Linked DNA regions of Homo sapiens. The protein of the gene in region 2 purifies or fractionates together with the protein of the main gene of each other region. This does not show direct contact. Each region holds a gene or a part of one and is shown on either strand. Other genes may lie near its edges.

Region 1 (3,814 bases), on a different chromosome or scaffold from region 2:
GAGTCTGTCTCCGCATTTTTTTTTCACATTATTTTTTTCTTTTCTTTTTCCTCCTGCTTCCAGTGGGGTTAGAATTTTTTTCTTTTTAGAGATAGGGGGGTTTCACTCTGTTGCCCAGGCTGGTCTTGGTGTTAAAAGATCCTCCTGGACCAGCCTGCCAACATGATGAAACCCCATCTCTACTAAAAATACCAAAATTAGCCAGGCCTGGTGGTACACGCCTATAATCTCAGCTGCTTGGGAGAATCGCTTGAACCTGGGAAGCGGAGGTTGCAGTGAGCTGAGATAGCCCCGCTGCACTCCAGCCTGGGTGACAGAGCAAGACTGTCTCCAACCACAACAACAACACAACAACAACAAACCCTCAAAACCCAAAAACAAACAAAAACAATTACCCTGGCCAGGCGAGATGGTTTATATCTAAATAGCACTTTGGGAGGCCAAGGCAGGAGGACTGCTTTAGCCCAGGAGTTTGAGACCAGCCTGGGCAAAATAGCGAAACTTTGTCTCTACGAAAAAAATAACTTTTTTTTTTTTTTAAAGAAAAAGATCCTTTTGCCTCTTAAAGTGTTGGGATCACAGGTATAAGTCACTGTGCCCAGCCTGTCTCCTCATTTGTAAGATTCAGGTAATAATATTTCCTCCCAAGCTGTGAAAATGCTACCATGTTTTACAATGTTCAAGTACTTTGCCTGGCACATGTTTGGTGCCCAATAGATAGTGACTATTTTACTTTGACCCTTATTATTATGATTATGATGACAGAAATTTAGTTCACACATTTCTAAGGTGAATTACTAGTTATTCTTACAAGGGAAAATACTAATCTCATAGTTTACAATCTAATCCATTGCTAAGCAAATACATATTCACTATTATTATTGTTATTGAGACAGGATCTTCCTCTGTCACCCAGGATGGAATGCAGTGGCCTAATCATGGCTCACTGCAGTCTTGAACTGCTGGGCTCAAGCAATCCTCTCACCTCAGCCTCTGGAGTAGCTGAGACCACAGGCTCGCACCATCACACTACTAATTTTTTTTTTTTTTTGTAGAGATGAGGTCTCACTAAGTTGCGCAGGCTGGTATCAAACTCCTGGGCTCAAGTGATCCTCCCGCCTCCCAAAGTGTTGGGATTACAGGCATGAGCCACTGAATCCGGCCCATATATACTACTGCACAACTTTGATTATAAAAGAAATTGCTTCTGGCTAAGAAATTAGCTCAAGTTTGTTTTTAAAGTTCTAAAACTCACCACTTGTCTTGCTTGCTTGTAAAATCCCTATAAGATACAGAAAGAAGTATAAAGCTATTCTAATATTAACAGGCATGGTATTTATACAGCATTTCAAAAATCAAGGCACTTTTTAAAGTGTTTGATGTGTATAGTTTTTAATCCTCAGAACAGGCAGGGTGAGGTGGCTCACACCTGTAATCCCAGCACTTTAAACTTTGGGAGGCTAAGGCAGGCAGGTCACTTGAGGCCAGGATTTTGGGACCAGCCTAGCCAACATAGCAAAACCCCATCTCTACAAAAGAAAATAAATAAGTAAATGAAGAATAAAAAATTAATTAATTAGTCCTCAGAAAAGTTTTATAAGAAAGGTACTATTTTCAATCCCATTATACAGATGGAAAAACAAACGCATAGAGATGTGAAGCAAATTTCCCCAGGGCACAGTGTTGTTATGGAGTAAAGGCGGGATCCAGGCACCTTGAATCCAGAGTTTATAAACATGCAATTTTCTTTTCTTTCTTTTTTTTTTTTTTTGAGACAGAGTCTCGCTCTGTTGCCCCTGGCTGGAGTACAGTGGCGCGATCTCAGCTCACTGCAAGCTCTGCCTCCTGGGTTCACGCCATTCTCCTGCCTCAGCCTCCCGAGTAGCTGGGACTACAGGCACCTGCCACCATGCCTGGCTAATTTTTTGTATTTTTAGTAGAGACCGGGTTTCATCGTGTTAGCCAGGATGGTCTCGATCTCCTGACCTCATGATCCGCCCACCTTGGCCTCCCATAGTGCTGGTATTACAGGCTTGAGCCACTGCGCCTGGCCATGAGCATGCAATTTTCTAAGAAGCACTGAAGTGTTGTTAAGACTTATGGTCACTGGTGCTTGAAATTTATTTTGATTTACTATTTCACTTTCATGCTCTTCAAAACTCCTGAGGATTCTTTTATATTCAACCAATTAGTGAAATTAGCCTATAGCAAAAGGACAAAGAAGTAAAATCACAGTACTGAATTTTAGTTAGTGATGCTACAATTATTATTATTATTATTTTTGTTGTTGTTGTTGTTAAAGGGTCTTGTTTTGTTCCCCAGATTGGAGTGCATTGGCACGATGACAGCTCACTGCAGCCTTAACCTCCTAGGCTCAAGCGATCCTCCCACCTCAGCCCTCCCAAGTAGCTGGGACTACAGGCGTGCACCACCATGACTGGCTAATTATTTTTAAATTGTTTTGTAGAGACAGGGTCTTGCTATATTGCCCAGACTGGTCTTAAACTCCTGGCCTTAGGCGATCCTCCCACTTTGGCTTCCCAAAGTGTTGGGATTACAAGTGTGAGCCACCATGCCCAGCCTGCAATTAACTTTTTAAAAAACACTGAGGATAAACTAAAATTGCAATAGCAATAATGTTTAAGCAATTTATTATATTACTTGATAGAATATTTTGCTATCACTAAAATTAAGTATTATGAAGACTGTGAAAATATGAAAAATATTTAGAACATAATTATATGAGAAAAGCCAAATACAAAACTGTTTAATTGCTATAATCACAAATGTAAAAACATATGTACTAACTATAGGCCGGGTGCAGTGGCTCACGCCTGTAATCCCAGCACTTTGGGAGGTCGAGGCAGGCAGATCACCTGAGCCCAGGAGTTCAAGACCAGCCTGGTCAACATGACAAAACCCCATCTCTACAAAAAACACAAAAATTAGCTGGGTGTAGTGTTGGGCACCTGTAATCCCAGCTACTCAGGAGGCTGAGGCAGGAGAATCGCTTGACCCCTGGAGGTGGAGGTTGTGGTGAACCAAGATCATGCCATTGCACTCCAGCCTGGGCAACAAGAGTGAAAACTCTGTCTCAAAAAACAAACAAACAAACAAACAAAAAAAATATATATATACACATATATATTTTATATATACATATATATTTTATATACACATATATATTTTATATATATACATATATATTTATACATATACATATATACATATACATATATATTTTATATATATACATATATATATATACATATATATATACACAGAAACACTATAGACATAAAGTAGGAGAGTTAAGAGGCAAAATAGAAACTGCTGTGTTTATTGTTAGTATCATGGGTGTTTTATCTGTTTTTACAACTCTTCGTACTTTAACTTTTAAAAGAATAATATTTTATCAGAATCATAAATGTATATATATATATACATTTCTTTAAAAAATAGAGTCTCACCATGTTGGTCAAGCCAAGCTGGTTAGAACTCCTGGGCTCAAGTGTTCCCCTCCCAGCTCAGCCTCCCAAAATGCTGGGATTACAGGCGTGAGCTACCACATCCAGCCACAAGTGTCTTTTAATTGCTTTATTTATTTATTTCTTTATTCATTTATTTATATTTATTAAGATGGAGTCTCTGATTGTCACCCAGGCTGGAGTGCAGTGGCGCGATCTCAGCTCACTGCAGCCTCCTCCTCCCTGGTTCAAGTGATTCTCCTCCCTCAGCCTCCTGAGTGGCTGGAATTACAGGCACCGTGCCCCCACGCCCAGCTAATTTTTGTATTTTTAGTAGAGACGGGGTT
Region 2 (3,814 bases):
CTCACTCTCAGGATCTGGAAAACAAAACCGCGCAGCTGACTGTGGGCCCACCGCAGTGCTGGCCACTCGCCAAGGGCCAGGCCCTGACACCCTCCCAGGAGCTGCCGACGGGAAGGCTGCGCCAGCTCTGCCATGACCCACGCCCTGTGTAGATGGTCTTGTCCTCAGCACAGCCCTGGCGGCCTCTGTCACCTGGACCACCCTTCTTTGTGTGACCAGTCAGCACACTGAACGGCTGCCAGAAACCCAAACAGACGCTCTGCTCCTGTACCGTCTGGAGCATCTGGGGAGTGAGCTGCCCTCCAACACCCAAAACAGGAGGCTCTGGGATGAGTGTTCCTCCTCCCTCCATGCAGAAGCTCGAAGGCTGGCACTGCAGCTCTCTGAGGAGGTGGCCCCACAGCCAAGGCAGCCCCCACAGTGGACCGGGCAGGAGACACTGGGACCCTCAGCTTGCTCACAGTGAGGCCTGCAATGCACACGCAGGAGGGACCACAGTCAGCTCGAGGCTGTCTTTAGTGGGATGCTGGGGGGCTGGCTGCCACCATGCGCTGAGTCCCACAGGATGAGGCCCCACCCTGGATGGCCACCTTCCCTAAGGCCCCTGTGCCTACCAGAAAAGCCACTGCCCCTTGCATGATCCATGGGCAACCCCAGCCCCAAGTCCTCCTCTCAACAAGTCCAAGCTCATCTGAGGAGCTCCCACTTCCCCTGAGCTCGGCCCATCTGGAGCAAAGAGGGTGGCCCCAGGGGCTGCAGCAAGTAATGCAAACCAAGCCTCCTGGAGACAGGGGCTGCAGGTGTGTCTCGCTGACCAGGAGGCTGGCTCCCTCCATCATGGTCACAGCCCGTGGCACTGCTAAGTGTAATCAGGTGCAGAGTGGTGGGCAGCCCAGCCAGCTAACCCGACCAGCAGAGCTGACCGTGCTCGGGGCCCAGGCCACAGCTGGCGGGGGCAGTGTTGGGGGCCAGGCAGCCCTGCCAGATGCCCTGCTCTCAGACCCCTGCCGGGGACAGCCCAGCCCAGCACCCGCAGCCCCTCAGCACCCTCCTCCAGAGGTGTGGATGCAGCTGAGCCCAGAACTGGCTCCCAACTCCTGTGCTCCCTAGGAGGCTGGTTGCTTTGGATTTTATATGGATAGAGGGTAAGAAAAAGATGTTGTTTCACACTGTTTTCGAGCAAAAGTGTTTATTTTTCTCCTTCAGATATACAATCTATTGGGGATTCCGTGCCACTGACCACCATGTACAAGGAAGGGATTCACAGGCAAGGGGGACAGGTGAGGGCAGCCCCCACTTCACTCAAGGAACAGGGCAAGGGGGCCCAGTACAGAGAACAGAAATCTCTTACGACAGCATCGTGCCCTGGCAGAAGATTCTGCATAATCACCTAGAAAATTCAATTCTAACTGAATTGATGGAATAATAGATTTGAACCAAAATAATTTACCCAGTTCTAATAAGTACAGAAACTATACAATTCACAGCTGGGCAGTCCCAAGCAGTCTGCTTTCCAGTGGGAGGTGGAGGAGGCTGGGGCCTTCCCCTCCCACCAAGGGCTGTGTTGTGCCCACTGGGGACGAGTCCCACTGAAATCTCCAGGAGAAGAATGACCCCGCCCTCCGCAGAGCAGGCTTAGGGCTGGACGGGAGAGCGGTCTGCATGCCAGGGGTGAGCAGAGCCACAGGTCTCCATGGAAATCATGGAGAAGGGAGGGAAGTGGGCAGGAGAGAGGGCAGCCTCTCCAGCTGGAGGAGCTGCACTTGTCTCCACAGGGTGGGCGGGCAGCCAGGGTTTCTATGCCCAACACACACCTTATCCTCACTCACAGCAGCCCACTGGCATGGGGGGCATGTCTGCTCACCTAACGTTTTCTGGCGGATTTCTCATGGCCCAGCGCAACAACTGACATTCCCTACTGAGCAAGCAGCTCCGCCAGTGTGCCCTGCCCCAGCGTCCCGCCGTCTCTCAGCCCCTGGATGAGCCCAGGGAACCGGCACTCTACTGAGGACAAAGCAGGGCTCACCTAGCAATGGAAGCTCTTCAATACTTAAGGTAGCTAATTCAATGTTTGTAAAAGGCATTTACAACAGAAAACCAAAGATTGAACTTCAGCTTCAGATTTGTAAACCATTCACATCTCTGCAACTTAAAACAGTAAATAAAGATTATCAATGCACAAGCCAATTGCAAATGAAACCTTTTCCGATAATTTTTTTTAACATATCTTTTCATCAGGGAACGGAAAAGCTGGCATTCAAGGCACTGTACTTCTGCAGGGTGACGACAAGGTTCTAACCATCAACTCAAGTATAGGAAGTGGGTGTGGAGACGGCGCGTGGACCACAGGAACCTAGGAGCGAACAGGGTCTGAAGCCGCAAAGGAAGCAGTCTTGCTGCCCACCCGCTGTCCCCCTCGCGGCTGAGTGCTGTGCCCACAGCAGGCGGTGGGGGGGACTCGGAGGCCAAACCACACCTGGTTTCTCCGGGCGGTTCCGAGGGCGCCATCTGGCAAGGGACAGGGCAGAAGGCTACGTGATCCGCAGCCGGGGGCCAGGCATGCTGACCACAGGTGGCTGCAAGAAGACTGGCAGCACGGGCACCTGGGGGGTGTTCCAGCTGCCCTGTGCCCCCAGCTGGCCCACCTGGCCTGCCCAGGGCCCCCAGGACACTGGAGCTGGGAGCAGGCCTCTGTACTGACCCAGAGGCAGCGCACAGGGTGGGGTTGGGAGGTTGGAGAGGGCAGTACCTGGTGTGGGCACGGACAGGGTCGGGGCGGCTCCGGGAATGACCGTGGTGGACAGAGGGCCGGGCGCTGGGGGCAGACGTGGCATCCCCACTCCTGCTCGAGGTGCGGTCATCTACAAAACACAGAGACGAGAAGAGGAAGGTACACGTGGCTGCAATCAGCTGGCCTCCCTTAGTGGCCCCCAGGGTGCCACAGTTTCTCCATCCTCAGGAGGCAGCAGTCCTGGAACCTGCTGTGACAGGCACCCTCTCAGGGCTGACACCAGAATGATGGTGTGGGGCCAGGAACCATCACCCTCCCTTGTTTGCTTCCCCAAGCTGCAGCCTGATAGCCTCTAGGCCACACACCTGGGTGTCCACCAGCCAAAATGGGACTTGGAGGAGGACTAGTGGGGCCTGGACCCTGAGGGCGCATGAGTGACCCCACATGCCTCTACTCAGCCACCACAAAGCCCTCCTGCTTGGCTGGTCAGTGCCCTCACAGGAGCATGAACCACCCAGGAGCTGGCAGGAGCAGAGCCCCAGGACCTGGGCAAAGCAAGTGTGCAGGGAGGTGATGGCAAGGCAGCCCTTCCACTGTCCCAGCCCGGGGAGAAGCTGTATGCGGGGTGTGCCCCAGGAAGGCAAGGCTGCTGGCCACGGGGAGTCACTCCTCTCCACTCCAGGGAGGGCCCCACTGGGCACTCTTCACAGGTGCATGGAGGGCACTCGGTGACTTCCACAACCCTTCCTGGAAATCAAGCTCGGCAGTCAGGGGCTGGAGGGGCCTCCTTATCTGGAAGGTCCTCTATGGAACCGACAGCTGAGCCCCTGCCCACGACAAAATGCCCAATACCTCCCCAAGGTGCCTCCATGCTTCCAGTCGACACCACGGGGATCTCCAGGCGGGGAGGAAAAGGAGTCAACCGCACAGACTGGACAGAGAGAAGGAGAACTGGCCTCATGCAGATGACAAGACTGTGTATGCAGAAAACCCACAAGAATGGACAAACCAATTTCTAGAACTAATAGCAAATTTAGCACAATTGCAGGATATGGGGTACGAAAGTCAACCATAGTTTTATAT

The links.
Region 1: the proteins of WNK2 (region 2) and SGK1 purify together in Homo sapiens (affinity purification with western blotting, with the first as the bait; one study listed by BioGRID). This does not show direct contact.

Annotation. Positions count from the first base shown.
Region 1 is NC_000006.12:134,262,366-134,266,179, forward strand, and holds part of SGK1 (serine/threonine-protein kinase Sgk1), read right to left. Parts: intron 1-3,814. UniProt on the Homo sapiens protein: Serine/threonine-protein kinase which is involved in the regulation of a wide variety of ion channels, membrane transporters, cellular enzymes, transcription factors, neuronal excitability, cell growth, proliferation, survival, migration and apoptosis.
Region 2 is NC_000009.12:93,316,567-93,320,380, reverse strand, and holds part of WNK2 (serine/threonine-protein kinase WNK2), read right to left. Parts: intron 2,862-3,814; coding exon 2,750-2,861; intron 2,509-2,749; coding exon of another isoform or gene 2,307-2,508; exon of another isoform or gene 1,173-2,306; intron 15-1,172; coding exon 1-14. UniProt on the Homo sapiens protein: Serine/threonine-protein kinase component of the WNK2-SPAK/OSR1 kinase cascade, which plays an important role in the regulation of electrolyte homeostasis, cell signaling, survival, and proliferation.